Linked DNA regions of Homo sapiens: all the other regions are linked to region 1. The links come from fine-mapping of genetic effects on gene expression. A gene starts in region 1. Each other region holds a variant in brackets. All regions are shown on one strand. Distances are between the middles of the regions. Region 1 holds the start of IAH1 (isoamyl acetate hydrolyzing esterase 1 (putative)). Region 2 overlaps LOC105373411 (a long non-coding RNA gene). Region 3 overlaps ASAP2 (ArfGAP with SH3 domain, ankyrin repeat and PH domain 2). Region 4 overlaps ADAM17 (ADAM metallopeptidase domain 17). Region 5 has its middle 2.6 kb from the start of ADAM17. Region 6 overlaps YWHAQ (tyrosine 3-monooxygenase/tryptophan 5-monooxygenase activation protein theta). Region 7 overlaps LOC101929643 (a long non-coding RNA gene).

The links.
Region 2: its variant is fine-mapped to the expression of IAH1 in testis (GTEx, PIP above 0.99).
Region 3: its variant is fine-mapped to the expression of IAH1 in whole blood (TOPMed, PIP 0.94).
Region 4: its variant is fine-mapped to the expression of IAH1 in whole blood (TOPMed, PIP above 0.99). The same link has a PIP of 0.9 or more in lymphoblastoid cells.
Region 5: its variant is fine-mapped to the expression of IAH1 in whole blood (TOPMed, PIP 0.98).
Region 6: its variant is fine-mapped to the expression of IAH1 in blood mononuclear cells (TOPMed, PIP above 0.99).
Region 7: its variant is fine-mapped to the expression of IAH1 in whole blood (TOPMed, PIP 0.96).

The regions. Positions count from the first base shown.
Region 1 is chr2:9,472,349-9,476,416 of GRCh38, forward strand. IAH1 (isoamyl acetate hydrolyzing esterase 1 (putative)) reads left to right here and starts at 2,203. Exons shown (of 6, transcript NM_001039613.3): 1 at 2,203-2,299; 2 at 3,639-3,691. The coding sequence starts at 2,219. It overlaps CPSF3 (cleavage and polyadenylation specific factor 3), which reads left to right. Exons shown (of 18, transcript NM_016207.4): 18 at 568-753. The coding sequence ends at 669. RefSeq lists a silencer at 1,975-2,744 and enhancers at 2,014-2,781, 3,262-3,822.
Region 2 is chr2:8,596,362-8,600,429 of GRCh38, forward strand. It overlaps LOC105373411 (a long non-coding RNA gene), which reads right to left. Exons shown (of 3, transcript XR_001739274.1): 3 at 2,508-4,068. Among named protein-coding and RNA genes, the nearest start is that of LINC01814, 15 kb to the left of the region's middle. The variant G/A (reference allele first, on the strand shown) is at 1,589.
Region 3 is chr2:9,260,667-9,264,734 of GRCh38, forward strand. All of the region lies in intron 1 of ASAP2 (ArfGAP with SH3 domain, ankyrin repeat and PH domain 2), which reads left to right. Among named protein-coding and RNA genes, the nearest start is that of ASAP2, 56 kb to the left of the region's middle. The variant C/T (reference allele first, on the strand shown) is at 1,862.
Region 4 is chr2:9,513,270-9,517,337 of GRCh38, forward strand. The region is part of intron 10 of ADAM17 (ADAM metallopeptidase domain 17); the gene reads right to left. Among named protein-coding and RNA genes, the nearest start is that of ADAM17, 41 kb to the right of the region's middle. The variant C/T (reference allele first, on the strand shown) is at 1,716.
Region 5 is chr2:9,556,421-9,560,488 of GRCh38, forward strand. No RefSeq gene overlaps it. Among named protein-coding and RNA genes, the nearest start is that of ADAM17, 2.6 kb to the left of the region's middle. RefSeq lists silencers at 1-68, 40-334. The variant A/G (reference allele first, on the strand shown) is at 2,392.
Region 6 is chr2:9,618,779-9,622,834 of GRCh38, forward strand. All of the region lies in intron 2 of YWHAQ (tyrosine 3-monooxygenase/tryptophan 5-monooxygenase activation protein theta), which reads right to left. Among named protein-coding and RNA genes, the nearest start is that of YWHAQ, 10 kb to the right of the region's middle. The variant G/A (reference allele first, on the strand shown) is at 2,166.
Region 7 is chr2:9,572,693-9,576,760 of GRCh38, forward strand. LOC101929643 (a long non-coding RNA gene) reads left to right here. Exons shown (of 3, transcript XR_922777.3): 3 at 2,623-4,068. Among named protein-coding and RNA genes, the nearest start is that of ADAM17, 19 kb to the left of the region's middle. The variant C/A (reference allele first, on the strand shown) is at 1,779.

The DNA.
Region 1 (4,068 bases):
AGATTATTAGTGAGTTTCAGTCAAATTCAGTACCAAATGTTGAGTAGATAGCCACATCCATTCCTTGCCAAGTAATTTGTGTGGCATAGATGAACTTCCCTGGAGTATCATTTACTAGATCAAACTGTGGGCTTTGATGTAAATGTAGTTTACTAGACTTTCCCCAGTCTTTCACCCCAGCCTCAAGTCATCACTAATTAGGACCGTGCTGCTGTCAGGAAGCACTGCACGCCCACAAGTGTGTAGGGCGGCCGTTCTGTTTCATGGTAATCAGTCCCACCATGACCTCTGCACACACAGATGATTGTTCTTTTTTTTAGTTTGAGACCCGGTCTCGCAGTGCCGCCCAGGCTGGAGTGCAGTGGTGCAGTCACAGCTCACTGCAGCCTCAACCTTCCCGGCTCAGTGATCCTCCCACCTCAGACTCTTATCTGGGACCACAGGCACACGCCACCACAGCTGGCTAATTTTTTATGAGATGATGGTTTTTTTAAAGAGTATTCATTTATCTTCTATATAATCATTATAGACTTAATTCTAACAGTCTTGTTTGTGCCTCACTTTCAGACTGTAGAATGTGAAGAGGGAAGTGAAGACGATGAATCCCTCCGAGAAATGGTGGAGCTGGCTGCACAGAGACTGTACGAGGCCCTGACGCCAGTTCACTGAGACTGTGCCTGTATATGAACTTTGAAAAAATACTTGACTCTACTTTTGTTACCTAAAATAAAATGCATTCGTTTCTCTGGGGGAGCCTGTTTACTTTTAATGTCAAATGGCCTTTATTTCAACAGCCTGAATACTGCTAAATTGCTAATTAATTTGTCCATTATTCTAGAACTAACTACTAGATCAACTGCCCATTATTTTAGAATTTTGGATTCTTCTTCCAGGCATGTATGTGCAGCTCCCATTGAAACCATCAAGATCTGCCGATAGCAACCGCTGCTGGTTACCCTCTCCTCTGGGGTAACCAATTTGAGTTAATAATAAGGATTCTAAGTTGCACTTGAATCTTTTCTGTCTTCATCTCCACTGCTGCTGTTCGAGTCCAAGTCTACTCTCCCCTCTGAATTCCTGCAACCACCTCCATCTCCTCCCCTATAGCTGATTCCTGGAACAGACCTGGCCTCAAGCCTCTGCTGCTTGAAGGCCTTAATGAAGTCCTTGTGATAAAGATGAAGTCCAGGCACCTTTGCTTGCTCTAGCAGGGGCTCTCAATCTGGGCTACCCGTGGGAATCACGTGGGGTGCATCACAAGTGCACCTGTGCCCAAGTCCTGCCACCAGGAGGTGAGTTAGTCCGGCTGGAATGAGGGCCCTAGGTTGGATCTTAGTTGTAAAGCTCCCCCAGGTGATCCAAGCGAGCTTGGGACGAGCAACCTAAAGAAAGTCATGCTCTACGCCCATCGCCCCGCCCCAGGGAGCGGGGTCGGCCTCTGCGCCGGCGCCCCTGGCCCTTCTGTTACTCATCTACAGCTCCGTGATTTCAAGGCATCCTTCCCACCCGTTCGTTTTTAGCTCGGCTGCCGAACTTCATTGCACAGTTGAGGTAAGAACGTTGCATTACAACCACGTTTTAACAGGTGAATCCCTTGGAAGTTAGTCAGTGCTCCGTGTCCGCGGGGTTCTGCATCTGCGCATCCACCCCACGGCGGGAAAAAGAAAAGCGGCCGGCTGCGCGCGCACTGAAGGTGCAGCTGCTTTCCCTTGTCATTCGCAGAACCACGAGGTACTGCCAGGGTTTCCGCAGTGCCTGCGTCCTCGTGGGTGTTACAGGCCCTCCAGAGTGACGCTGGGCGCAGGAGGCCGCGCGCGCATCCCACGACCTCTTCCAGGGGGGCCTGGAGCAGCCCTCCGCCCCACCGAGAGCCAGCTGTGCTTCCCGCCGCGCGTCCTGAGGTCACACTCCTGCCCTTTGCCGAACGCACCTGCGCCCGCGGAGCGCGGGGTGGGCTTAGAAGGGCCCCCAACCGCTTTTCTTCCGGGAACCACGCAGCGGGACGCGGGCTCCGGACTCCCTGGGGGCAGCCTTGCTGTGGGTGAGCAAGCGCGGAGGCCGAGCTTCTTGCAAACGGACTCCAAGGGGCAACGACCTTCGCGCGTCACCAAAGTGACTGCGTGGGTGCCCACGAGCCCGGCTCCCGCAACCCACGGGCGGCCACTGCGCAGGCGCCTCTCGTGGCTGGCGGCCCCGCCCCGCCCCGCCCGGCTGCTCCATGGCGCTGTGCGAGGCCGCGGGCTGCGGGAGTGCCCTGCTCTGGCCTCGCTTGTTGCTCTTCGGGGACTCCATCACCCAGGTACGGCCGCCCCGACGCTCGGCCTCCCGCCCCGGCCTCCCTGCGGGGTCGCTGCCGAGCAGGCCGAGGCTCCTCGCCGTCCTCTTCGGCGCCCGAGACGGCTGGGCCGGAGGCCTGGCCACGCCCGTGGAGACACCGGAGGAGTGGCGGGTCCCCCAGTGGCTGCGCCTTCCGGGCCCGCGGCGTCCCGGAGGTCACGACGGCGTCCGCGAGAGCCCGGGCTCCAGGCACAGACGCGAGGGGACCCGGCCGCGCTGCCCGCCCCGCGCCGCCTCCCACCCGGGTCGAGATGCGCGGTCTTCCCCTCAGCGCCCTCCTGGGCAGCGGCCTTTCCCCTCCGGGTCCGGGTTAGCGGCCGCGGGCGACCGCGCGCTGTGTCCCAGGAGGCCCCGCGGCCAGCTCCGGGCAGAGGCGCCAGGAGCTCTCTCGCCCCATTCCCTGCGGGCACAGGTGGGGCCGTTAGGGGTTGACCTTGGAAGTAAAACGCCTTCAGGAATTAGGTAGAAAAGGACCATCCGTTCATCCAAGATCATCTCACCTCCCATGAAGGGAACGGTCTTCTAAATGCAGGTTCTTACTTCGGGGAGGGAGTAGAAATTCCATTCCTGTGTGTGTCCTCTTCTCAGACAGGACTTGCTTCACCAGGCTTTTGTGTATACGCCAGTAACTGGTAACATTATGTTTAGGCATATGGGGCAGTCAGAGCTGCCGAATTCCATGGGAATGTGTATGAAAAAGTGTTCACCCTCAGCTCGGTAACCAGCAAAGCAGTGAGGCGGTGTGGCCTTCATTTCCTCACTGACCTTTGACTTTATTTCCTGAACTTAGATTTCTGTTTAGCTTTTTTTTTTTTTTCTTTTTTTCTTTTTTTGAGACGGAGTCTCGCTCTGTCGCCCAGACTGGAGTGCAGTAGCGCGATCTCGGCTCACTGCAAGCTCCGCCTCCCGGATTCAAGCGTTTCTCCTGCCTCAGCCTCCCGAGTAGCTGGGATTATAGACGTGCGCCACCACACCGGGCTAATTTTTGTAATTTTAGTAGAGACGGGGTTTCGCCATGTTGACCAGGCTGGTCTCGAACTCGAGACCTCATGTGATCCGCCCGCCTTGGCCTCCCAAAGTGCTGGGAATACAGGCTGTTTAGCTTTTGATAGAGAAAAATCCCCCTCTGCTAAAGTGCTGCCAGGTGTACTTACCTGTAATCCCCAAAATGACCTCCTGGAGTGAAGCAATCAAAGCCAAGAAGGGAGCGCCGAGAAAACAGAAGTTGCCAATCAGAACTGCCCTCGCTGAGATGCCCGGTTACAGTCATTAGTAGTAATAATGGGCTTTTCTTCCTCCAGTTTTCCTTCCAGCAGGGTGGATGGGGAGCATCGCTGGCTGACAGGCTGGTCAGGTGAGAATGGTTTCCGATACTTGAGTTCTTATGGATGGAAAATGTCTTAGGGATCCGTCTTATGGATGAAGGATAGTTCTGAACAGAACATTCCTCCTTTATTAATTTTGCTTGCCTCCCCTAATCAGTATATAGGAGAAGGAACAGAAAACATTTACTCTTCACTCAGTCTGACCAATTAGATATTTTAGGGTTGAGCACTGATGGCTGGGTAGACTCAGACAAATCAAGGAAATGGCCAAGGCCTCTTCCCTAGTCAGGGGCAGACAGATCCAAGTCCAGCTGCTATGACTGCAGAACTTGCAGTTTCACTGCTACACCACACTGGTAGGAAGCTACTTTGCCTTTTTTTGAAGTGCTGCCATGACTTAAGACTC
Region 2 (4,068 bases), 880 kb before region 1:
CTAGTCTGCTAGGAAGTGACCTGGGTATCTTGACACCCGGCTGCCCGGGCTAACGATGGGCCCTCAGAATGGAACCCTGGAGCCTGGCAGGGCGGAGGCTGCCTGGGAACCCGCCAGGGGTTCCTGTTTCCTGGGCCAATGTGTGACCAGAGGAGTGCGAGTGTGTGTGAACATGCAGACCGTTTGTAAGTGTGTGTGCACTTAGGGGTGTGTGTGTGTGTGTGTGAGGGAATGTGTGGTATGGGGTATGTGTGTGTGTGTGTGTGTGTGTGTGGTGTACACATGCGGTGTGGGAAGGGCATGAATGAATGTGGTGTATATTGTGTGTGTGGTGTGTGTGTGTGTATATGTGTGGTGTGTATGTATGGTGTGTGTGGTGTGGTGTGTGTGTATATGTGTGGTGTCTATGTTTGTGTGGTGTGTGTGTGGCAGGTGTATGTGTGGTGTGGTGTGGTGTGTGTGTGGTGTGGTGTAGTGTCTGTTTCTGTGTGTGGTGTGTGTGGCAGGTATATGTGGTATGTGTGTATGTGTGTGGTGTTTGCGTGGTGTATGTGCGGTATGTGTGTTGTGTGTGTGTGTGTGTGTATATGTGTGGTGTATGATATGTGGTAGGTGTTGGTGATATATGTGTGTGATGTGGTACATATATGGTCTGGTGTGTGTATATGTGTGGGGTGTGTGTGGTGTGGGTGTATGTGGGGTGTGTGTGTTGTGTGCTGTGATGTGTGTGTGTGATGTGGTGTGTGTATATGTGTGGTGTGTATGTGTGGTGTGGTGTGTATGGTGTGTCTGTGGTTAGGTGTATGTAATGTGCATGTGTGGTGTGGTATGTGTGTATGGGTGGGGTATGTGTGGGGTGTGTGGTGGGTGTATGTAATGTATGTGCAGTGTGGTGTGTGTGTATACATGTGGTGTGGGGTGTGTGTGTGTGGGGTGTGTGTTGTAGGTGTATGTAATGTGGGTATGGTGTGTGTGTGTATATATGTGGTGTGTATGTGTGGGGTGTGTGTGGTAGGTGTATGTAATGTGTGGTGTGGTGTGTGTGTATATGTGTGGTGTGTATATGTATGTGTTGTATGTGTGGTGTGTTTGCATGTGTGGTGTGTGTGCACTCATGCACACTTACACAGTGTGTGTGAGCATGTTGGCCCTGTGTGGCTCTTTGCGTGTGAGTGTGTGCCATGTGTATGAGCGTGTGTGTGTGTGTGTGAGCCTGCTACCATTGTGCCTGTGATATGCTGAGGAAGCCTGCAGAGAGCAGGACTGGGGTGTGGATTCCAAGTCTTGGCCAGTGCACAGCAGGATGGGGACCAGGGAAACCCCTCTCCTGAGCCTGTGCCCTCTCGAACATAGGGGCAGGTTCGCAAGGACCAGAAGGGATCTGCCTCCCATCTGCCACCGCCCCATCAAAGGCAGAGCTGAAGTGAGATCAGTTGGGTTAGGGCTCCACGGAAAACCAGGTAAGCCCCAGGGACCACAGGCCGACTAAGGCTGACAGCAATTAGCTGATTAGTGAGGGGCAGAGGGCAAATCCAGTTCCACAATCAAGGACCATGAATGCAGAACTGTCAGTGGATCCCATGGGGGT[G/A]GCGCAGGGGCATGGAAATGCCCTGGCTCAGGACACGGAGCAGCCAGGTCAGAGCCCAGCTGAACTCTTAGGAGCTATGTGACCCTGGGCTGTTCACTCACCCTCTCTTGGCCTTATTCCACTCGCACACTCAGATGCTATTATAACAAGCAGTCCCTGGACAGCAGTCAAGTCCACAGAGGGGCTCTGCAACCCATGACATACTACTCAATTGCTAGTTTCCAAAAAGTACCTGGGGGCTGATCCAAAATGTGGGAATGGCAGGTCCCAGCAGAGAGAGAGAGGCACTGGTAAAGCCGGGAGAGTGAGGCCGCCAGGCATCACCAAGGGCCACACGAACCAGGGAGGAGTGACAGAGGCAGGAGAGGAAGCTGGGGGACAAGGCCCAGCAGAGGGCCCTTAGGCTAAAGGAGGCCGTTAAACAGAGCAGGAGATGGGACAGTCAGCACTGGGACGAGACATGGGGGCTGACTTGGAGACAGTGAGACCTGATAGGAAGACATCACGCAGGAGTCCTGTTGCATCACTGTGAGTCACTCTAGGAGGATTATGCAACATATGATGAGTGTACAATATTAGCCGGGCGTGGTGGCTCACGTCTGTAATCCCAGCACTTTAGGAGGCCGAGGCTGGTGGATCACTTGAGGCCAGGAGTTTGAGACCGGCCTGGCCAACATGGTGAAACCCCATCTCTACTAAAAATAAAAAAATTAGCTGGGCATGGTGGCACGCACCTGTAGTCCCAGCTTCTTGGGAGGCTGAAGCATGAGAATCGCTTGAACCTGGGAGTCAGAAGTTGCAGTGAGCTGAGATCGTGCCACTGTGCTCCTGCCTGGGTGACAGAGAGAGACTCTGTCTCAAAAAAAAAGAAAAAAAGAAAGAATATGCAATGTACAGTGAGTATGAAATATACGACGAGTATGCAACATAAGATGAATATGCAACATATGATGATTATACAATGTACAGTGAGCATGCAATATACAATGAGCATGCAACACATGAATATGCAACACTTGAGTATGCAACATAGGATGAATATGCAACACATGAATATGCAAAACATGATGAATATGTAACATGAGTATGCAACATGATGAATATGCAACATATGGACATATACAATGAGTCTTCAATTATGATGGATGCAACATGTAAATATACAATATATGAGTCTGCAATATACAATATACAAGGAATATGAAATATGAATATGCAATGGATGAGTATACAACAGATGATTAGCATACAACATGTAATAGACAAAATGCAATGAATATACAACACACGGTGTGTATACAACATACGATGAGAATACAACATGCAATGGCTCTACAATATAGAATATAAAATCCATGACGAATATACAATATACAACGAATATACAATACACAGTGAAGGCCTGAGCCCAGGTGGTGGGAGTGGGAGCAGAGTAGAGGCTGGAAAGGTCACTGGGGAGAATAACCAGGACTGGGCTGCAGGAGGATGTCGGGCTTAAGTGACGGCGACTGGAAGCAGGACTCTCTGCTCTCTAGTTTGGGAGACAGCCAGGGCTGCGGCGCCATCTCCAAGACGAGGAAGATGTGGCCTCTAAGAACAATTAAACCTTTCTGGAAACGTTTCTACCACTTCCTGGAAGCCTTCCGAGGATCCCACCTCAGTCTTCCGGCCGCCGGTCCATCACTGGGGCTAGAGGATTTGAGGAAGCCTCACCTGCATACAGGTCAGCTGGTTTGTAGGAAAATATCCTGCCCATGTCCCCTCCGGAGGATTAACCAGAAAAAGGCATGTCTGCTGCCCCCTCGGGGACGCTGGGGCAGCTTGGTGGGAAGGGTTGGGTTCAGAGGGCTAAAAATGGGCCACAGGTGCTCCTAGAGGCCACCATGTGGGAGAAGCCAGACCCAAGTCCACTGGGGCAAGGGGAGGGCCTGGGCGCAAGCAGACACAAAGTCCAGAAGGCAAAGGCAGGGGCACAGGTGGGAGGAGCCCAGGGTCTGAACCCCGGTGAGAAGGCCAGACGGTCAGAGAGGGAAGGGTCTGGGGCAGGCCCACCATGCCTGTCCCTTCCCAGGGAGATGCCACCCAAAGGGGCGGGGCTTGCCCCTGGTGCCCCAGGTGGAAAGCCCCAGTCAGAGCTGCAGGAATCCCATCCGGGCGTGACTTCAGCACTGCAGCCCCTCGGCCCAGCACTCTCCACAGGGCCTCCTGCACACCCTCTGAACAGAGGCCCAGGACGGGGCCCCTTCCACAGCCAGGCCCAGCATCAGCAGCCCGAGAGAATGCTATGCGTTCCCAGCAAGTGGGGAGCCGCCCCTGGCTTTGGATAACTTGTCCCAAAGCCCCTTGCTTTCTGACAAGAGTACCCCGCTCCAGCTGTGCTCGGTTTTACCTCCACAGTTCTCCAAGCCCTCCAAACTCAGACCCTCCCACCAAACCCATTTCCTCTCGAGGGTCTCATGGTGGTGGTGAGAGGGCTGAGG
Region 3 (4,068 bases), 210 kb before region 1:
CCCTATTCTGGGTTTTTCTCCTCCCTGCTTCCCATTCTACCATAGGGGAATGGGGTCAAGTCTTTTGGATGGGAAACAGGAACTGAGAAGTTGAAGATGGAGAAATGAAAGACTAAAGATAGCAGGGTTTTAATTTTCCCTCTGAAAAGCCCAGGAAGAGCCCCGGATTGTGTAACCTGGACACATGCAAATGATGACCCTGCCCCTACTCTATCTGCTTCTCCGCCACCCTGGCCCTTCAGAAGATTCTGAAACAAGGAATTGGTTACCCAGGGTGGTTAGGGGGGTTGTGCCTGTGTCCCTGGTGAACTTTAGATTCTTGTGCCCCTGGTGAACTTCAAATGCTAGTGTGCTGGGAGCCGTATGACAGCCCCTTGGGGTGGCAGGAGCTGGCTTGTGTGGAGGAGAGCCACTGGCAGCTTTCTTGGTGAAGGGGTGGACAGCACTCTTGGTGTGGAAGTAGCAGCCCCCTTGCCTGTAGCTGGGCTGGGGTTAGTGGAACAGGGTTTAGAGAAAGCAGGGGTAATGCCGGGTGGTTATTTTCCCCAAATGTTAGAGAAAGCCAGCGCTTCTGGCTCTGGAAGTGAGGCTGTTGGGAAGTGGGAGGGGGAGCACAGCTCTGGAAGCTGCCTTCCGTCCTCCCTCCATTGGCTGGAGCTCTCCCAGCATTTCATCGGTTCAAAGCCAAACACATGATTTTGGACAAGTCACTTAAACTCTTTGAGTCAGTTTCTTCTCCTTTAAGCTGGGGAAAGAGGTGGTGATTTCACAAGTGGTTGTAAATATTGCAGTAAAGATAATGGAAGTAAAAGTGCTCTGTGGAGTGTAAATTGCTGTATGGTAGTTGGAGTTGGGCCCTAGGTGTGATTTTAGAGTACACACCTACTGCTGCCTTGGTAACTTAAAAGTATTTATCTCAAATGCTAGTGAGCTGAGCTGAGTGGCACAGTAGGCCTTTCTTTCCCTGGGAGCACTTTGGGAGCTTTGGAGGTTGCCCAGTGCTGCCCCCAACCTTTAACAGTGTGGCCGAGTGTAGGAGGGAGGGGGCAGAGTTCCTTCTGGCTGGACTGCCACATGCAGGGGAGAGGCCCCGCTGGTGGTGTCCCAGGTGGGAGAGGGGCAGACCTGGGGTTACCTCAGTCAGGGTAGGTGAGGAGGGGATGGGTGGACACCCCGGTGGCCACTCCTACTCACCCCTGCACTTAAGACCTGGGGTTTCATGCCCTGCTCCTTTAACCCTCAGTGTTCAAGAGAGAGGCCAGTTGGACCAGAGCGCCTCACCCCACCATTTGCCATGTGCCCCTCCCCGTGGGGAGTCAGAAACACCTGAGCACACCAGGAAAAGTTTTGAAAAACAATGTTTTTAGAGACAGGGTGTTGCTACGTTGCCCAGGCTGGACTCAAACTCCTGGGCTCAAGCGATCCTCCTGCCTCAGCCTCCTCAGTAGCTGGGAATGATAGGCGCGTGCCATCATGCCTGTATGAAGTTTTGAAAAATTTAAATGTTGATGGAAAAAAAAATGTATTAGTGGAAATGAAAGGCTGGTATAAGCTGTAAAGTCTTTTTGTTCTTAGAGATTTTTTTCTCATTCTAAACATTATCAGACCTGAAAAGTATTTGTCGTAATGACTGAGACGGTCCTGGGGTAACAGCGTCTTCTTAACGGCCACTTTAATTGGCGTAGTTTACACCTAGCCTCTCCGAGAACTGGAGGACACTGGTAATCACTATTAGATATTGAGTGCTGACTGTATGGCAGACACATAAGCATTGGTGATCTCCTGTGAGGCAGGTATTGTTATTCCCAATTTATAGATGAAGAAACAGAAGTCAGTGAGGTGGAGTCCGTTTTTGAGGTCA[C/T]GCGGCTAGTAATTGGAGCCTGGTTTAGAACCAAGTCAGTCTCATTCCAGAATCCAGAACCAGTGATTTGTAACTGATGCACTTGTCTCCAAAGGGATCCAGCACTGGGTTTTCTCATTTTTAATGCATCCATTCCTTAAAGCCTCTGTTCACAGTCACAAGGTGTACTTTTTAAAGGAACACAGCACACAAATGTGACCGCTAGTGGACAGCAGTGGCAGCCCAGTTGGATGGCAGAGCCTGGCATGCCGACTGGGACAGAAGCCCCAGCACACGGTGTGATGATGGCGTCTCCAGGCTGACCTCCATGGCCTCAGGAATCAAAGTCCTCAGTCTCTTTCACGCGGGGTTCAGAAAGAAAACTCGGCTATCTTACATCTCCTCTCCCCTGTTTATTTGACTAAAGTGAAGTTCATGTGGCTTGAGCCTCGTTTCCTGGGGAAATCAGCCTGGCTTAGGATTCCATTGTCTTCTGGGACTGGGAAGATGTGGAAGGCTGACCTCACGCCCAGCTGAAGGTCACCTTCCCAGACTCTGAGCTCGGCTGCCTTCTGCATCGCCACGGCTGGAGGGCCTGGCCCAGGCCGTGGCTGCATGCTGGCTTTCCACTGTCTCGGTGTCCCTGCTGCCTGTCAGTAATGTGCCCAGCACCTTCTGGTGTCATGTCCCCTCTTGTTTGTGATTCTTTTCCTGAGCTAGTCCATTTTCTACCTCGAGTCTGCTCTCCTGCCATTCCCAGGGGCCACAGCTCAGTAATGTGGGTGTCAGGGAACCCCAGGCCAGGCCCCCTTGTGCCACTGTGGCTCTCCCCAAAGCAGGGCACCAGGCTGGCTGGGGGGGTCCTGCCCAGAGCTGCCCCACGCTGCCGTGTTTGTGCTGCTGCTGTGCAGTGGTGATCTTGCCAAAATGTGGCTTTTCCTTTCTCACTCCCCCAGAGCTCCCAGAAAAGTCTCTAGGACTTTTCTTCCCCCTAAATAAAAGTCAGGATGTGAAGCCTTTTGACAGAATTGGAGTTTACTGTCATCTGTTTCCGTTTCTCTAAGATAGGGATCCTGGCGAAGCCCATGAAAGCCATGGGGCGCTCCCACCGAAGCCTCCGAGGCACAGACCTCCCGGGAGTGCCTGTGGGCGCTGCTTCCTTAAACTGCAGGAGGCTGCAGCCTCTCGTTGTTCATGCGTCGTTTTTTCATAGTGTGTGTGGGTTTAGAGCTACATGGGTTCTTTTCTCACTTATCTGTTCATACCGCATGACACCGTCCACTTCAGGCACAGTTGACGGCCGTCTGGAGGTCATCAGCTGAGGGCACAGTTTGCCTGGTTCTTCTATAATAGGTTAAGTATTTTTTTCTCCATTTTTTTCCCTTTTAAAAGTACTGCTAGAAGGCCAGGTGCCGTGTCTCACACCTGTAATCCCAGCACTTTAGGAGGCCAAGGCGGGCGGATCAGTTGAGGTCAGGAGTTCAATACCAGCCTGGCCAACCTAAGGAAACCTCATCTTTACTAAAAATACAAAAATTAACCAGGTATGGTGGTATGCACCTGTAGTCCCAGCTACTCAGAAGGCTGAGGTGGGAGGATCACTTGAGCCTTGGAAAGAGAGGTTGCAGTGAGCCAAGATCACACCACTGCACTCCACCCTGGGCAGTGAGTGAGACCCTGTCTCAAAAAAATAATAATAATAATAATAATAATAATAAACACAAGTACTGCTGGAACTTCTTTGCAGAAACAACTTGTGGGGAAGGAGGGAGGTATATTTTAGTATTTGGCCTTGGGAAAAGGTTTTGCTTCTGCAGGCATGTCTTCCAGAGACTGGGGGGGCCCGTGCTGGCGTCACCACTGTCCCCTTCCCCATCAGGAACCTTCCTTCCTTGGATGGCATTTCCAGTGTGTCCGGGCCTCTGCTGTTCTCATTATGAGTCCCCAGCTCTGACGGCCACTGTGGCTGATGCACAGGGTGTTGGAGACAGTGATTCAGCCCAGCAGGCTGTATTCATGTGCTGTTCCTCTGTACACCCAGAGCTGTCTTCTCGCTCATCATTTATTAATCTTTCCCATGCAAGTCATACGTGAATATATCCTTGTGGTAAAGTTTTCAGGTGATAGCGAAAACTCAGTCTCCTGTCACCGTCTTCTCTCCTCATCTAGGTGCGCGCTATAACTAAGTCCTTTGCCTCTTCCAGAGTTTTTTTCTCCCTGTGTACCAT
Region 4 (4,068 bases), 41 kb after region 1:
AGGCGTGAGCCACCGCACCCAGCTTCTTTGTATCCTTTAAAATATCCTATGTAATAAACCCATAAACTAAGTTAAGCTTTTCCCTGAGTTCTGTGAGCCACTTAAGCAAATTAATCAGACCCAAAGAGGAGAATGTGGAAACCCCAACTTGAAGCCAGTTGGTCAGAAGTTCTGGAGGCTCAGACTTGTAACTGGTGGGGAGGAGGGAACAGTCAGTCTTGTGGGACTGGGCCCTCAAACTGTGAGATCTGATACTATTTCCGGGTGGAGAGTGTTTGAATTGAATTGGAGGACACCTAGCTGATGTCTACTGCTTGATATGTAGGGGGAAATCCCCACACGTTTGGTCTGGTCACACAAGTCTTCTGTGTTGATGATGATGGTTGTGATGTGAGAATAGAGGGAAAACACAGTTTGAGAGATTTTTTCCCCTAAAACAAAGTACCATAAGAAAAAAATAAATTTAGAAATTAAGGCCAAGCACGGTGGCTCACGCCTGTAATCCAGCAGTTTGGGAGGCCGAGGCAGACGGATCACCTGAGAGCCAGCCTGACCAACATGAAGAAACCCCATCTCTACTAAAAATACAAAATTAGCTGGTCGTGATGGCGCATGCCTGTAATCCCAGCTGCTCAGGAGAAAGAGGCAGGAGAATTGCTTGAATCCGGGAGGCGGAGGTTGCAGTGAGCCAAGATCACACCATTGCACTCCAGCCTGGGCAACAAGAGAAAACTCCATCTCAAAAAAAAAAAAAAGAAAAGAAAAAAAGAAATTAAAAGATTCCCAAAAGCTAATTAGTGTCTTTTTCTTTTCTCATACCACTCTACATTATTGTTCAACATTGTCCAACAATGATAGACTGGATTAAGAAAATGTGGCACATATACACCATGGAATACTATGCAGCCATAAAAAAGGATGAGTTCATGTCCTTCGTAGGGACATGGATGAAGCTGGAAACCATCATTCTCAGCAAACTATCGCAAGGACAAAAGCCAAACACCGCATGTTCTCACTCAAAGGTGGGAATTGAACAATGAGAACACTTGGACACAGGAAGGGGAACATCACACACCGGTGCCTGTCGTGGGGTGGGGGGAGGGGGAAGGGGGAAGGGATAGCATTAGGAGATATACCTAATGTAAATGACGAGTTAATGGGTGCAGCACACCAACATGGCACATGTATACATATGTAACAAACCTGCACGTTGTGCACATGTATCCTAGAACTTAAATTTAAAATATAAATATATATATATATATATATATATATATATATATATATATATATATATATAAATAAAAAGAGACAGGGTCTCAGGCCAGGCACGGTGGCTCACGCCTGTAATTCCAACACTTTGGGAGGCCAAGGCGGGCAGATCACAAGGTCAGGAGATTGAGACCATCCTGGCTAACACAGTGAAACCCCGTCTCTACTAAAAATACAAAAAATTAGCCGGGCGTGGTGGTGGGGGTGCCTGTAGTCCCAGCTACTTGGGAGGCTGAGGCAAGAGAATGGCATGAACCCAGGAGACAGAGCTTGCAGTGAGCCAAGATCATGCCATTGCACTCCAGCATGGGAGACACAGCGAGACTCCATCTCAAAAAAGAAAAGGAGGATCTCGCTAAGTTGCTCAGGCTGGAATGTAGCGGGTATTCACAGTTGCATTTATCACACTACAGCCTCTAACTCTTGGCCTCAAGTGATCCTCC[C/T]GCGTAGCTGGGACTATAGGCTCCTGCCACCACCTGTTTTTAAATCACCCAAAGTCCACAGTTTATGTTAGGGTCCACTCTTTGTGCTGTATATTCTATGTGTTTCAACAAATGCATAATGTCTTATACTGACTGTTGAAGTATCATACAGAGTAATTACCCTGCTCTCCACCTATTCATCCCTCCCTCCCCCAGCATCTAGCAATCACTGATCATTTTATAGTCTGCATGGTTTTGTCTTTTCTAGAATGTCATATATTTGGAATCATATAGTATGTAGCCTTTCAGACTGGCTTATTTTACTTAGTAGTATGCTTTTAAGGTTCCTCTATGTCTTTTCATGGCTTAATAGCTTTTTATTTTTTTCTCATTTTATGGATGTGCCAGTTTATCCATTTACCAACTAAAGGATATCTTGGTTGCTTCCAAGTTTTATCAATTATGAATTAAGCTGCCATAAACATTCTTATGGCTGGGCGTAGTGGCTCACACCCGTAATCCCAGCACTTTGGGAGGCTGAAGCAGGCGGATCACCTGAGGTCAGGAGTTCGAGACCAGCCTGGACAACATGGTGAAACCCCATCTCTACTAAAAATACAAAAATTAGCTGGGAGTGGCAGCGGGCACCTGTAATCCCAGCTACTCAGGAGACTGAGGCAGAATTGCTTAAACCTGGGAGGCAGAGGTTGCAGTGAGCCGAGATGGCGCCATTGCACTCCAGCCTGGGTGACAAGAGTGAAACTCCGTCTCCAAAAAAAAAAAAAAAAGAAAAAAGAAAAAGAAAAGAAACTGCCAACTGCCTTCCAAAGTGGCTGTTCCATTTTTGCATTCCCACTAGCAATTAATGAGAGTTCCTGTTGCTCCATAGCCTTGTTGGAATTGTGTTGCCAGTGTTTGGGATTTTAGCCATTCTAATAAGCTACTAGTAATAGCACATTGTTGTTGGGTTTCTTAAAGTTTTTTATAGAAATAGGATCTCACTAATGTTGCCCAGGATGGGTCTCAAACTCCTGGGCTCGAGCAATCCTCCCACCTCAGCCTCCCAAGCAACTGGGACTACAGGCATGTACCCCTACAACCAGCTTCATTGTTAATTTGCAATTTCCTAATGACATATGACGCTGAGCATCTTTTCATATGCTTCTCTGCTATCTGTATATCTTTGGAGGTATCTGTTCTGCTCTTTTGTCTGTTTTTAAATTAGGTTGTTCATTTTCTTATTGTTGAATTTTAACAGTTCTTTATACATATGGAAATTTTTATTTATTTATTTATTTTTAATTTTGTAGAGACAGGGTCTGACCATCTTGCCCAGGTTAGTTTCAAACTCCTGGGCTCAAGTGATTCTCCTGCCTCGGCCTCCCAAAGTGCCGAAGATTATAGGAATGAGCCACCATGCCCGGCCTCTTTGTATATTTCAGATAGCAGTCTTTTCTCAGATGTGTCTTTTGCAAATGTTTTCCCATACCCTACACCAAGTATAACATCATAGTCAAAAAATCAGTATACCAACCAGCCCTTTAGGAAGCCAAGGTGAGTGGATCACTTGAGGTCAGGGGTTCATGAGACCAGCCTGGCCAACATGGTGAAACCCTGTCTCTAAAACAAAAATACAAAAATTAGCCAGGCGTGGTGACAGGTGCTTGTAATCCCAACTACTCAGGAGGTTGAAGCAGGAGAACTGCTTGAACCCAGAAGGCAGAGGTTACAGTGAGCCAAGATGGTGCCACTGCCCTCCAGACTGGGCCACAGAGCAAGACTCTGTCTCAAAAAAAATAAAAATTAAATAAAAATTAAAAATCAGTATATCAGATACTAATATGTCCTACCAACATCTCTCTCCCCTTCTTCCTTACTTAATGAGCCCTAATTTTGCCCAGGACAGCAATATACTCAGCTAAAATAGCCAGCTTTCCACATTCCGTTGAGGCTAAGGGCAGCCACGGGACCCAGTGCTGTCCAGTAACATATAAACAAAAGCCAGGATGGGGCCTCCAGAGAAGCTTTTTAGAAGGGCCAGACTAGGCTAGCCATGTTCTCTTTCTCCTCCTTTCTCCAACACAGAAGAGAACCATCTTAAAACCATGAGGTGACATCCATGAGGACAAAGACTTCCTGCTTGTTCTTGAGCCACTGAGGGTACCTCTGAGTTGCTGTACCACCCAGAAAATGCTATCCCTGAACTTCTTGTTGACTGAGACAAATAAACCCCTTATTTAAACCACTGCTTATTTAATTTTCTGTTATTTGTAGTCAAACACATTTTAACAGACATAGCTGGAGAAAAACAAGATCTTAAGATATTCCAGAGAAAAAAACAGGTGACAAACAAAGATAAGAACTCAAAATGACT
Region 5 (4,068 bases), 84 kb after region 1:
TTGGTTCAGGGTCCTACTGCCGGAGTCGTCTGAGGCCTCCATCCGTCTGTCGTCACGAAAAAGGTTTTGGGGGGACTAATAAGCACTTCCTGAATGCACATTTGCTCCACGCCCCTGCTGTAGGGAGAGGGTCTGCAGACACTTCAACAAATAGAATCCTAGGACCTTACCTGTGAGTACAAGAGCTGGAATCTTCCCACCAACTTCTTAAAATTCAATCCTATACTTGGTCCATTTAGCTTAGACTGGAAATTTCCCAAGGCAGTTTGTTTTGCAATCTTTTGCATGATTTTAGCTCTGTATAGTTTAGTGAATGTTTATGGTACTGAATAAAACAGTCTAAAAACGTTGGGTACATGTTGCTGTTTTATTTAGTTCAACCAAAGTTTATAAAAGTAGGACATAATACGTTTTCCACTTAAGAGTGAGACAGCCTTTATTATGAAACGGTAAATTGTTAGGAATACTAGTCCTATTCAAGTTTCAAGGCTTATTCCTAATAAAATACTCAAACTGTGGTTAAAATTTATGTTAATGGTGGTTTGCCGCAGTAAAATATCAGCGTCTTTTTCAACAATACATTGTTGGCTAAAATTAACCGGACCTGGTCTGTACATCTGAAGTATAAAATATCTTTATTAAACATACCCATTAGTGGCATACCTAGTCAAAAAGTAAGCAGAATTTCACATGCAAATTGTATACAATCTGTAAAAATTGTATTCCATAAGAATGTGACAGTTGAGTACGGTTTTTGGGGGGCTTTTTTGGTGTACCATAATAATGTCATCTGGTTTCTTTTCTGAACATCCAGTCACCATAATGTCCGGCTTGTAACTTTAGTAGATCGTAGATTGTATTATTTTGGTATCCCCAACAGCTCTTGTACAGTGCCTTGCTCATAGAAGGTACTTAGCTGTTTAGTAAATGCCGTTTAAAAAAAAAATCCCGATCCATTTTCTTTTCTTTTTTTTGGGGGGGGGTGGTGGGGGAAAGAGTTTCGCTCTTATTGCCCAGGCTGGAGTGCAATGGCGTGATCTTGGCCCACTACAACCGACTGAACACCTCCTAGGTTTAAGCGATTCTCCTGTCTCAGCCTCCCAAGTAACTGGGATTACAGGCGCCCGCCACCACGCCCAGCTAATTTTTGTATTTTTAGTAGAGATGGCATTTCACCACGTTGGCCAGGCTGGTCTCAAACTCCTGACCTTAGGTGATCCACCCGCCTCGGCCTCCCAAAGTGCCAGGATTATAAGCGTGAGCCACCGCGCCTGGCCTGAATAACCAGAAGTCCTAGATTTCCAGGGACATTCCAAATTTCAAGTAATCTTTTCAATTCACAAATCAGGACCCAAATTATTCCAATTTGCAGTTCATCTTTCATTTATCAATTGTGCATACTTTTAAGATAAAAGAGCACCACGTGGGGGAGATAAAGAGCCAAAGGAATATGGTAAGAGGGGCACTGGATAGATTAATTAGTTTATCTTTTTTTTTTTTTTTTTTTTTTTTTGAGACGGAGTCTTGCTCTGTTGCCAGGCTGGAGTGCAGTGGCATGATCTTGGCTCACTGCAGCTTCTGCCTCCCAGGTTCAAGGGATTCTCCTGCCTCAGCCTCCCAAGTAGGTGGGACTACAGTTGTGCGCCACCATGCCCAGCTAATTTTTGTATTTTCAGTAGAGACAGGGTTTCACCATGTTGGCCAGACTGGTCTGGATCTCCTGACCTCGTGATCTGCCCGCCTTGGCCTCCAAAGTGCTGGGATTACAGGCATGAGCCACCGCGCCCGGCTCTTTTATCTTTTGAGACGGTCTGGCTCTGCAGCCAAGGATGGAGTACCGTGACACAATCACAGCTCACTGCAGTCTCGACCTCCTGGGCTCAAGCAATCCTCCAGCCTCACCCTCCTCAGTAGCTGGGACCACAGGCATGCACCACCACACCTGGCTAATCTTTACATTTTTTTTATAGAAGTGGAGTCTCGCTATGTTCCTCAGGCTGATCTCAAACTCCTGGCCTCCCAGAGTGCTGGGATTACAGGTATGAGCCACTGCACTCAGCACCAAAATAATTTTTTAAAACTATATACCCCCTGGCCAGACGTGGTGGCTCACACCTGTAATCCCAGCACTTTGGGAGGCCGAGGCAGGCGGATCACGAGGTCAGGAGATCAAGACCATCCTGGCTAACACGGTGAAACCCCGTCTCTACTAAAAATACAAAAAATTAGCCAGCGCAGTGGCACGTGCCTGTAGTCCAAGCTACTTGGGAGGCTGAGGCAGGAGAATCACTTGAACCCTGGAGGTGGGGGTTGCAATGAGCCGAGATAGCGCCACTGCACTCCAGCCTGGGCGACAGAGGGAGACTCCATCTCAAAAAAAAAAACAACTAT[A/G]TACCCCCTAGGTGTATCTTTAAAGTTTTTCATCATTAGCGTAGTAGTAGCAAATTATGAAACTTTCAGCATAAATACTGACATTTAAAATTAAAGCTGTTAGGTCATTATTTTAAAGTTTTCCAATAGAGTATAAATACCTCAAAGATTTGACAGCCACAGTGGTAGCCCAGCCTCCAAGATGGCCCCCAATGATGCCTGCTTCCTCTTCTACACTGGGCCATAGTTGGTCTGTGACCACTAGCATGCAGCCGAAGTGATGTCACTTCTGAGGTTAGGACACAAGAAACTCTGTCCTCCATCTCAGGTGCTCTCTTGCTTGCTTGTTTCCTCTTGAATCACACACTCTGGGGGAAGCCAGCTTTCATGTCATGAGAACACTCAGGAAAACTATGGAGAGGTCCAATAGAACAGGTCAGCAGCCAACAAACACCAAGGAGCTGCCAAAGACTATGTGAGTGAGCTTGGAAGGAATTCAGCCCCAGGCAAGCTTTAAGATCACTGCAGCCCCTGACCTACCATCTGACTATAACTAAGCTACTCCCAGATTCCTCAGCCTCAGAAGCTGGGAGATAAGTGTTCGTGGTTCTAAAGCTCCTAAATTAGGGGTAATTTGTTACACAGCCACTATCATCTGTTCAAAAAAATACGTAAACAAGTTGATGGGATCCTGGGTTCTTAACACCTGAAGTGATGCTTTTAATTTAGGATTTAATAAAGATAATTAAAAATATTTCCTGAGGTTCCCCAATCCCATGCTGTGGAATTAATTATTCATAATTTAGATACCGCAAGTGAATTTAAGAGTAAACATTTGCAGTTATTAAACACATGAGCCACATATGGTTCTGCAGTTAACTACCAAACCCACACAAGTACCAGTAAAACCTTGTCTAAATGACCAGAGAACTAACTGGTTCTGGCTGGGTGTTTTGTTTCCTTCTATCTATTTCTCTAGCTCTATTTCTCTTATTAGCCAATTTTGTCTTACACCAACCCCACCAGTTTTTATAGATGGATAGAGCCATCCTCACTGTTTCTAAAATGGTAATTATTCCTGCATTTGTATGCTTTTTTGCTGATGAACAAATCTGTGGAAAGCAGTCGCTTTAAGTATGAGTCAACCCACAAATAAGACAACAGATGCCACTTAATGAAAAATAGGACTTTATACAAAGTCATGTGCCAAGAACTCTAATTTCTAAGGTTTTGGTTAAGAAATTTTAACCCATTTTAGAAAAAATCAACCTTTTTTTTTTTTTTTTTTTTGAGACGGAGTCTTGCTCTGTCGCCAGGCTGGAGTGCAGTGGCGCGATCTCAGCTCACTGCAACCTCCGCCTCCCGGGTTCAAGTGATTCTCCTGCCTCAGCCTCCCGAGTAGCTGGGACTACAGGCATGCGCCACCACGCCCAGCTAATTTTTGTATTTTTAGTAGAGACGGGGTTTCACCATATTGTCCAGGATGGTTTCAATCTCTTGACCTCATGATCCGCCCACCTCGGCCTCCCAAAGTGCTGGGATTACAGGCATAAGCCACCGTGCCCGGGCAAAATCAACCTTTTAGAAAAATGACAAATATGCATGGGACAAAGCAGAGACATCTGCAGATCCTCACTGATGAACAGATGATTTTGGGGGGAATTTTTTTTAATTGTTATAAAGTCTCCTTTCTTTCTT
Region 6 (4,056 bases), 150 kb after region 1:
GCTAGGGTTATAGGTGTGAGCCACCCTGCCCAGCCTATGTTTATTTCAGATGTTCAAAACAACAAACAAAAATAACACACTAGAAAAAATGATCAGAGAATACGTGTTAAATGAGAAATAGTTCAGGGCTTTTATAAATTTGTGACCTCCACCCTTCCCCTTAGTCCTTTTTCTCCATAAACTCTAATTACAAATTCTACTACCACAGCAAAAAAGAGGAATACATCCTTCTGAAAAAATAATATTTGAGAATCTATACTAATAATCTTAGTAGGTCCTTTAAAGACTCAACAGACGTGGGGGCTAAATATGTTGCTTTGGTATCCTGATATAAACTTAAAAGAAAACTACAGTAGTTTCATCAATAGCTAAAATAAGTTTATAAACATTTACCAGGCCATTTTGATTACAAGCAGAAATGTTCAGAAACCTGTCCTGGACAAAAAATAAATCACTAAGTGCTTTTTGGTATCTGTATAAGAAGGATCACCTTCCAGAGATGTACAGCTGATCGTCAACAACAAAATAGAGGTATACAACCTTAAATCCTACCTGCTGAGTTATTCAAACTGCATCAGTGTACACTGTACTATTTAAAACAGCAAGAAATAAGGCATGAAAAACCCTAACAATAAATACAGTAATACCAAAAAAAGGTATTAAATGTTTAAATGTTATATGTGCACTTCAGCCCAGGAGGCAGAGGTTGCAGTGAACTGAGATCGTGCCACTACATTCCAGCCTGGGAGACAGAGGGAGACCTTGTCTCACCAAAAAAAAACATACACAAAAAAACAAAGAGTTACATGTAAAAAAATTAAAAATATATTAAAAATTTAATTATGTAAAAAGTAACTTCCACAGAGCATAGCTATATTTAATGGGATATTCTATCCTTCCAAATGGTGGTCTCTGCAATCAGGCACCAAATAATCAAGAGTATTTTAAATCCGTAATGTAACCTTTCCAACCTCTTATCCATCAGAATCCCAAGAGGGCAAACACTAGCACTGAAGATCTAAAAAGTATATTCCCAAATGACTGGAAACAGTACCAGGCTGAAAGATCAGAACACCTAGTATAAATATGTTTAACTGCAGAGGTTTAACAACTGTAGCTTTTAAGAGCAAAAATCCTGTGAGCTGCATTCAAGTAATGTTTGGTGGAATGTACAAAACAAGAGGGAAAATGGAGTACTAATTATTGAAGAACAACAGCAGTAAGAGTTATTCAGGAATAAAATGTCTAATCTGATGATCCATATAGCTTATGGCTTTAAAGCATTTTCACACACTTCTCCATTTATTTCCTCCAATCACCGCGACATGACGTTCACAATCTATGACCATCCTTTAAGAAAGCATTTAAATTTATGTAAGTTCTTATCATCATGGTCTCACCACTTGCACCATTATTTTTCCATTTCTCTAAGTAAAGCCTGTAGCAAAGGTACAGGAGACAGAATGTTCAAATGAAGAGTATCGTACAGAATATGTATTTAGTACCACACTGTGCCAAACCCAACTGGATACTGTAGTAAAAATCCAGATGACAAAGAGATCATGAAATACTACTCATCTGGATAGAAAAACATGTAAACTGACAATCAAAGGTTGGTATGAAGACAAGTTTCACTGATAAATACTTTGACCAATGCTGGTTAACAGCTAACCTGACTTACTGCCTCCAAAAGCTGTGTATTTTTAAAACTTAAATGCAACCAGCTCTGAAAGACCATTATCCATATTTTTCATGGATGTCAACTCTGCTTTTTGGTCAGGTATTGGGAGGGGCAAGTTAAGAGATTATTAACTTCATATTATCCTTCTCAACACAAGAAAGCAGAAAGACATTCCAACATACCAGATCTTTAGCTGGTTTCCAGGAATTAACAGGGACTTTTATTACCCAATGTCTAATATCAACTATTCTCCTTTCTTCATTATCACATCTGTGATTTTCCTGGTCTTCAAACCTATATTCCTAGGGATAAGATGGGGTGCAGGGGCAGAGAAATGGGAAGGGTGGGGAAGGTTTTACAAATTCCATTATCACCACATATGATGACTACTCAGAAAATAAACTGCTCAATCACCCAAACACAGTAATAAAATTCTCGTAGAACAGCAGTTCTACTATTAACTTCAGTAATTAAATTCTCATAG[G/A]GCAAAGTATAGTCTGGGAACCCCTAGAGGTCTCCCCTATATCCTTTGTGGGGTGGAGAGGAGACAAAGTAAAACCACTTTCATAAGTCTAAGATATTTGCTTTTTTTCCACTGTCATTTTCTCACAAGTGGAGTTTTCCAGAAGCTACAGGAGGTGGAATACTACAATAGGTTGAATGAAATGCAATGCCGCTATTCTCATTCAATTTTTTGTTAAAGTTATTTTATTTTCTAAAAAGGGGTCCTGAGATCAAATTTGTGAACCACTGTCCCAGAGTATGGCCAATTAAGACGTCTTACACAGCATCTGGTAACTCCATCAATCTACTTAGCACTCATCACCCAAACAAAAAAGTGATGGTGCCAGTGATGTCTCCTAAGTGGGGATCAATACCGTTCTATACATTCTCGTATCTTGAGGATAACAAGACACAGGCTACACACTATCTTCTTGCTATATGTATTAAAGACACTCAACCAGTGATGTGAAATATCATAACCCCCAATACATGGCAACCAACAATTACAGTGAACACCCCCACATATCCACCACCTGGATCTTACCATTAACCTTTTGCCATACTTGCTTTTTCAGATACCCATACATTTCTAGCAGTTACAAGCTGAAGACATAAGTACAGGCATATCACTAGTTTTTTTTCAAAGCAAAATTTACATACAAAATGCACAAATCTTGGGTGTACATTTGCTGAGTTTTGACAAATGTATAAAACCCAAACCCATATCAACTAAAGAATACAATTATCCATTCTACTATAAAGACACATGCACACATACGTTTATTGCAGCACTATTCACAATAGCAAAGACTTGGAACCAACCCAAATGCCCATCAACGATAAACTGGATCAAGAAAATGTGGCATATATACACCATGGAATACTATGCAACCATAAAAAGGATGAGTTCATGTCCTTTGCAAGGACATAGATGAAGCTGGAAACCATCATTCTCAGCAAACTAACACAGGAACAGAAAACCAAGCACCGCATGTTTTCACTTACAAGTGGGAGTTGAACAATGAGAACACATGGACACAAGGAGGGGAACATCACACAGCGGGGACTGTCAGGGCGTCGGGGGCTAGGGGAGGAATAGCATTGGAGAAATACCTAATGTAGATGACGGGCTGATGGGTGCAGCAAACCACCATGGCACATGTATACCTATGAAAGAAACCTGCACGTCCTGCACTTGTATCCCAGAACTTAAAGTATTAAAAAAAAAAAAAAATACAATTATCCCAGAAGCCTGCCCCTTCCCAATCTCTGCCTATTCTCCCACAGAGGCCATTATTCCTGATTTTTTTTCCTACCATAAACAGGTTGTGTTTGTTCTAAAATTTCATATAAATGGAATCACATACACTATGTACTTTTTCATGCAAAGTTTCTTTCACCTAGCATGTTTTTGAAATTCAATCATATTGTAGTATCAGTGGTCCATTCATTTTAATGCTGAATAGTATTCCATTTATGAATACATCAGTGTTTATCAATTTTCCTACTAGTGGATTATTTCTAGTTTTCTGCTCTTAGAATAAAGCTGTTATTAACATTTTTGTACCTATGCGCCTTGGCCCCATGCATCATTCCCTCTTGCGTAAACACCTAAGAGTGGAATTTCTAGGGGAGGAAAAACTTATAATAGGGAATTTTAAAGGTACACAGGAGAACAAAGAATAGTACAATGAATTCCAATTAAAGCCAGCTGCAACTATATTAATTCATAGACACTCCTGTTTCATCTGTATTCCCCCAATTACTCTGAAGTCCTAGGTATTATCATCATTTTGTCTTTAAATACTCAATATGCAAACAATAGTTTCAAATCTAGTAATTTATCATATTTATCACTGACTTATCTATGG
Region 7 (4,068 bases), 100 kb after region 1:
GAGTCAAGATTCAAATCCAGAGACATCTGACTTCATTTCCCTTCATTAACAACCATCTAAGGAAGTTCCTATTACTTTGGGAACTCCTAGTAGCAGGTGGTTAAAAAAAACTCCTGGACAACATACTATGCTATTTGAATCATCCTACTTCTTACGCGTTCCTCCAGGATGCACTCTTCTCCCATTCTGAAACTGACAGTTCTCTTTACAAACTGTGTATGTTTCATTCCTGGATTGCATCTGAGCTGCCGCCATGGAACGGGCATTGAGTTTTAGCGTGTGTGATGTCCCATGTGTTCATTTTGTCTCCCCACACTATAAACTTGAGAGGCAAGGCCAACTCTTTTATGTCTTCAAATGCTTTGCTGCCAAACACAGGATTGGAAATGGCCAACAAAGACTAAAATGCTACTTCTCTACCCTTTTCACTATGCCATCTACTGGAAATTTAAGCAAGACTTGCAGAGATCACTTCAGGTTATCTGTTCCCCTGCAAGAAACACTTGTGGTTTGGCCTGAAATAGTTTTCTGCTGATTCTTTCTCTACAGCCCTGAACCCTAAAAACAAATGAAATGCATCAACACAATACTAAATGCCTACATATTATTACTATTATGTCTTTAAAAAAAGAGTGAAAGCTTTTTCATGTTTGCTTTAAATCAACCATGTAGAAACTGGAGGGACCAGTGAAGAGGAATAGAGGGAATGAACTCAAATGCTCTAACTTGCAATAGGACAGTTGGGTTCTTACTTTGACTCACCTGACCTTTACAACCATTAGCCAGCTCACATGATGCCCAAACAAGTTGCTGAGCCTCCTGCCCATCCTCTGTATATATCCCTGGTTTCCTGTCTCAAGCTTTAGGCTAATCTCCATCAACACTGACCTCACATGAATACTAAATGCAGATGTCTGACCTCATATTTCTCTGCCAGTCAGATCCCTGGCCTCTTTACTACAGACCTTAAGGACCAGTTCTCAAACTCATCTCATTGGCATCTTTTCACATCACGAAATCTATCTGGTCAGGATTTGAATAAAACTGTATTTTTACTTTAATACAAAAGAGTCAACATGGGCAGTGACTAAATAAAGGGGGTGGGGACAGAGTTAACACGAGCCACCTATGCTGTTACATATATATATATCCCGATTAATTTCAGTTGGTGAAGAGGAAGACCCTCGGGCACAGATTTCAACACTGTGCTGGACTCAGACCCAAAATCCTTTGACTTATTTTTATTTTTTGGGATGAGGTCTCGCTATGTTGCCCAGGCTGGAGTACAGTGGCTATTCATAGGCACTATCATAGTGCAGGGTAGCCTTGAACTCCTGGCCTCATGATCCTCCCACCTCAGCCTCCCTAGTGGCTGGTAGCTGGGACTACAGACACAACCAGCCCTCTGACTTATTTTTACTACTCTGCTGTGAAACTCACCCGATCTTTACTTTGGCCTTCATTATTGAGGCTTCCTTAAAGCAGTGGTTCTCAAAGTACCAGGTCCTGATCAGCAGCATCAGCATCAATTTGTTAAAAATACAAATGCTCTATGGGGCCCTACCTCAGACTTACTGAATCAAAACTCCTTAGTCAAGACTTAACTGCTGGTAAGTGACTGAGTTTTTGGTCAAAGGCATTTCCTTTTAGCACTTGTTCTCTGGGTCCTGATTTTTCTTTACTTATTTCAACAGAATGACCTTTCCCATTGTATTCCATCAGAGAGTGCTAATTAGAAGCAAAACCACAGCTTAATTGTCTTTTTTTTTTTTTAACTT[C/A]GCATTCCCAAGTTACACCGTCATTTTCTTTTTGTGACTATGCCCTTGAAAATCTAGGGCAATAGGTCTGCTCAGTGTTGTTGATTTTCTTATCCACAAGACTGGTTTCACTTTATTAGAACTTTCTAGTTCCAAAATTAGGCTATCCTGCTAACTTCCTTCCCACTTGAGTGTTCCACTACATACATTCCACAGCCCTTTACACTTGGAAATACTTTCACACATTGGCTTGCAGGCTAGATAGATTGTCCACCTTTTATCTGTAAAAGGTAAAACAGAAACTCAGTGAGATTAAAGCCATAGCTATAAAGTAGTGAAGTTTAAAGTTCTGGTACCTACTTCAGTCCCTGACTCATAACAAGCGCTCAATATATTTAACAAGTATGTGAATGACCATGGAAGCCAGATCTTTGACTTCTAGGCTGGTTTTCTTTCTCTTTTTTTTTTGAGATGGAGTCTCGCTCTGTTACCCAGGCTGGAGTGCAGTGGCACGATCTCGGCTCACTGCAACCTCCGCCTCCCAGGTTCAGGCAATTCTCCTGCCTCAGCCTCCCAAGCAGCTGGGATTACAGGTGCACGCCACCATGCCCAGCTAACTTTTGTATTTCTAGTAGAAACGGGGTTTCACCATGTTGGCCAGGCTGGTCTCGAAATCCTGACCTCAAGTGATCCGCCTGCCTTGGCCTCCCAAAGTGCTGGGATTACAGGCATGAGCCACTGCACCCAGTTTCTGGCTGGTCCTTTCTATCTCTAGATCACACAATCTCTCATGTTACATAGTTGTGGGAATAGACAAGTCTAGCTCCAAAAAGCGTTAATAATCTTGTCCCATTTATTTTCCTAGCTCCCAAGTTGTGATGTTGCCACCAGTATTAGAACACAGTGGTCTCCAAAATCTTGCCAATGAATCCTCCAAGGTGCGTACCAAGTTCCGGAATAACTGAAAGAACATCACATACACAGGCTGGGTACAGTAGCTCACATCTGTAATCCCAGCACTTTGGGAGGCCGAGGTGGGAAGACTGCTTAAGGCCAGGAGTTCAAGACCACCCTGGGCAACATAGTGAGACCTTGTCTCTACCCTCCTCCCCAACCCCCCCCAAAAAAGCACCACCTGTCAAGGAGAATGGCATGGCGACATGGCTGAAACACAGAGCCTTATCTAAAGACCCACAGGGCTAGAATGGAGAAAGAACTCTCAGAACAAATTTCAGATAGGTAAAAAACCTGGTAATGTCAGTAGAAAATGAGAAACAAATAGTCTGGCTTCCTTCAAGGACTAAAGGACCTGAGTTACTCCCATACAATGGTGGAGAGTAGAGCCCACAAGATTACTGAATAGCAGAGATCTTTGCAATGAATGCCAGCTTCCAGTACACACTTCCACAGGAAAGTGAAGGTTAATCTAGCTTAATTCAGTGCTTTAACTCCTCTATACCTCTGACAGGAGAAAGAAAACCAGGCTACACTGGAAGTTAAATCTCAGTTGGACTTAAACTTTTTCTAGTTTTCTTTTTTTTTGGAGACGGAGTTTCACTCTTGTTGCCAGGGCTGGAGTGCAATGGCACAATCTCGGCTCACTGCAACCTCCGCCCCCCGGGTTCAAGCAATTCTCCTGTCTCAGCCTCCCAAGTAGCTGTGATTACAGGCACCTGCCACCACACTGGCTAATTTTTTATTTTTTTTTATAGAGACGGGGGTTTCACCATGTTCGCCAGGCTGACCTCAGGTGATCTGCCCGCCTCGGCCTCCCAAAGTGCTGGGATTATAAGCGTGAGCCACCGCACCCGGGACTTTTTCTAGTTTTCAACATTGTTATCTATACATCCTCAAGTGTAAGCTGTCACAGGAAGAAAAATGTGTCTTTTTTTTTTTTTTTTTTTTTTTTGAGACAGTCTTGCCCTGTCACCCAGGCTGGAGTGCAGTGGCGTGATCTCGGCTCACTACAACCTCCACCTCCCGGGTTCAAGCAATTCTCCTGCCTCAGCTTCCTGAGTAGCTGGGACTACAGGCACCTGCCACCATGCCTGGCTAATTTTTGTATTTTTAGTAGAGACAGGGTTTCACCATATTGGCCAGACTGGTCTTGATCTCCTGACTTTCTGATCTGCCCACTTCGGCCTCCCAAAGTGCTGGGATTACAGGTGTGAGCCACCGCGCCCGGCCAATTATTTCTTTCTTTCTTTCTTTTTCTTTTTTTTTTTTTTTTTTTGAGACGGAGTCTTGCCCTGTCACCCAGGCTGGAGTGCAGTGGTGCGATCTTGGCTCACGGCAAGCTCCACCTCCCAGG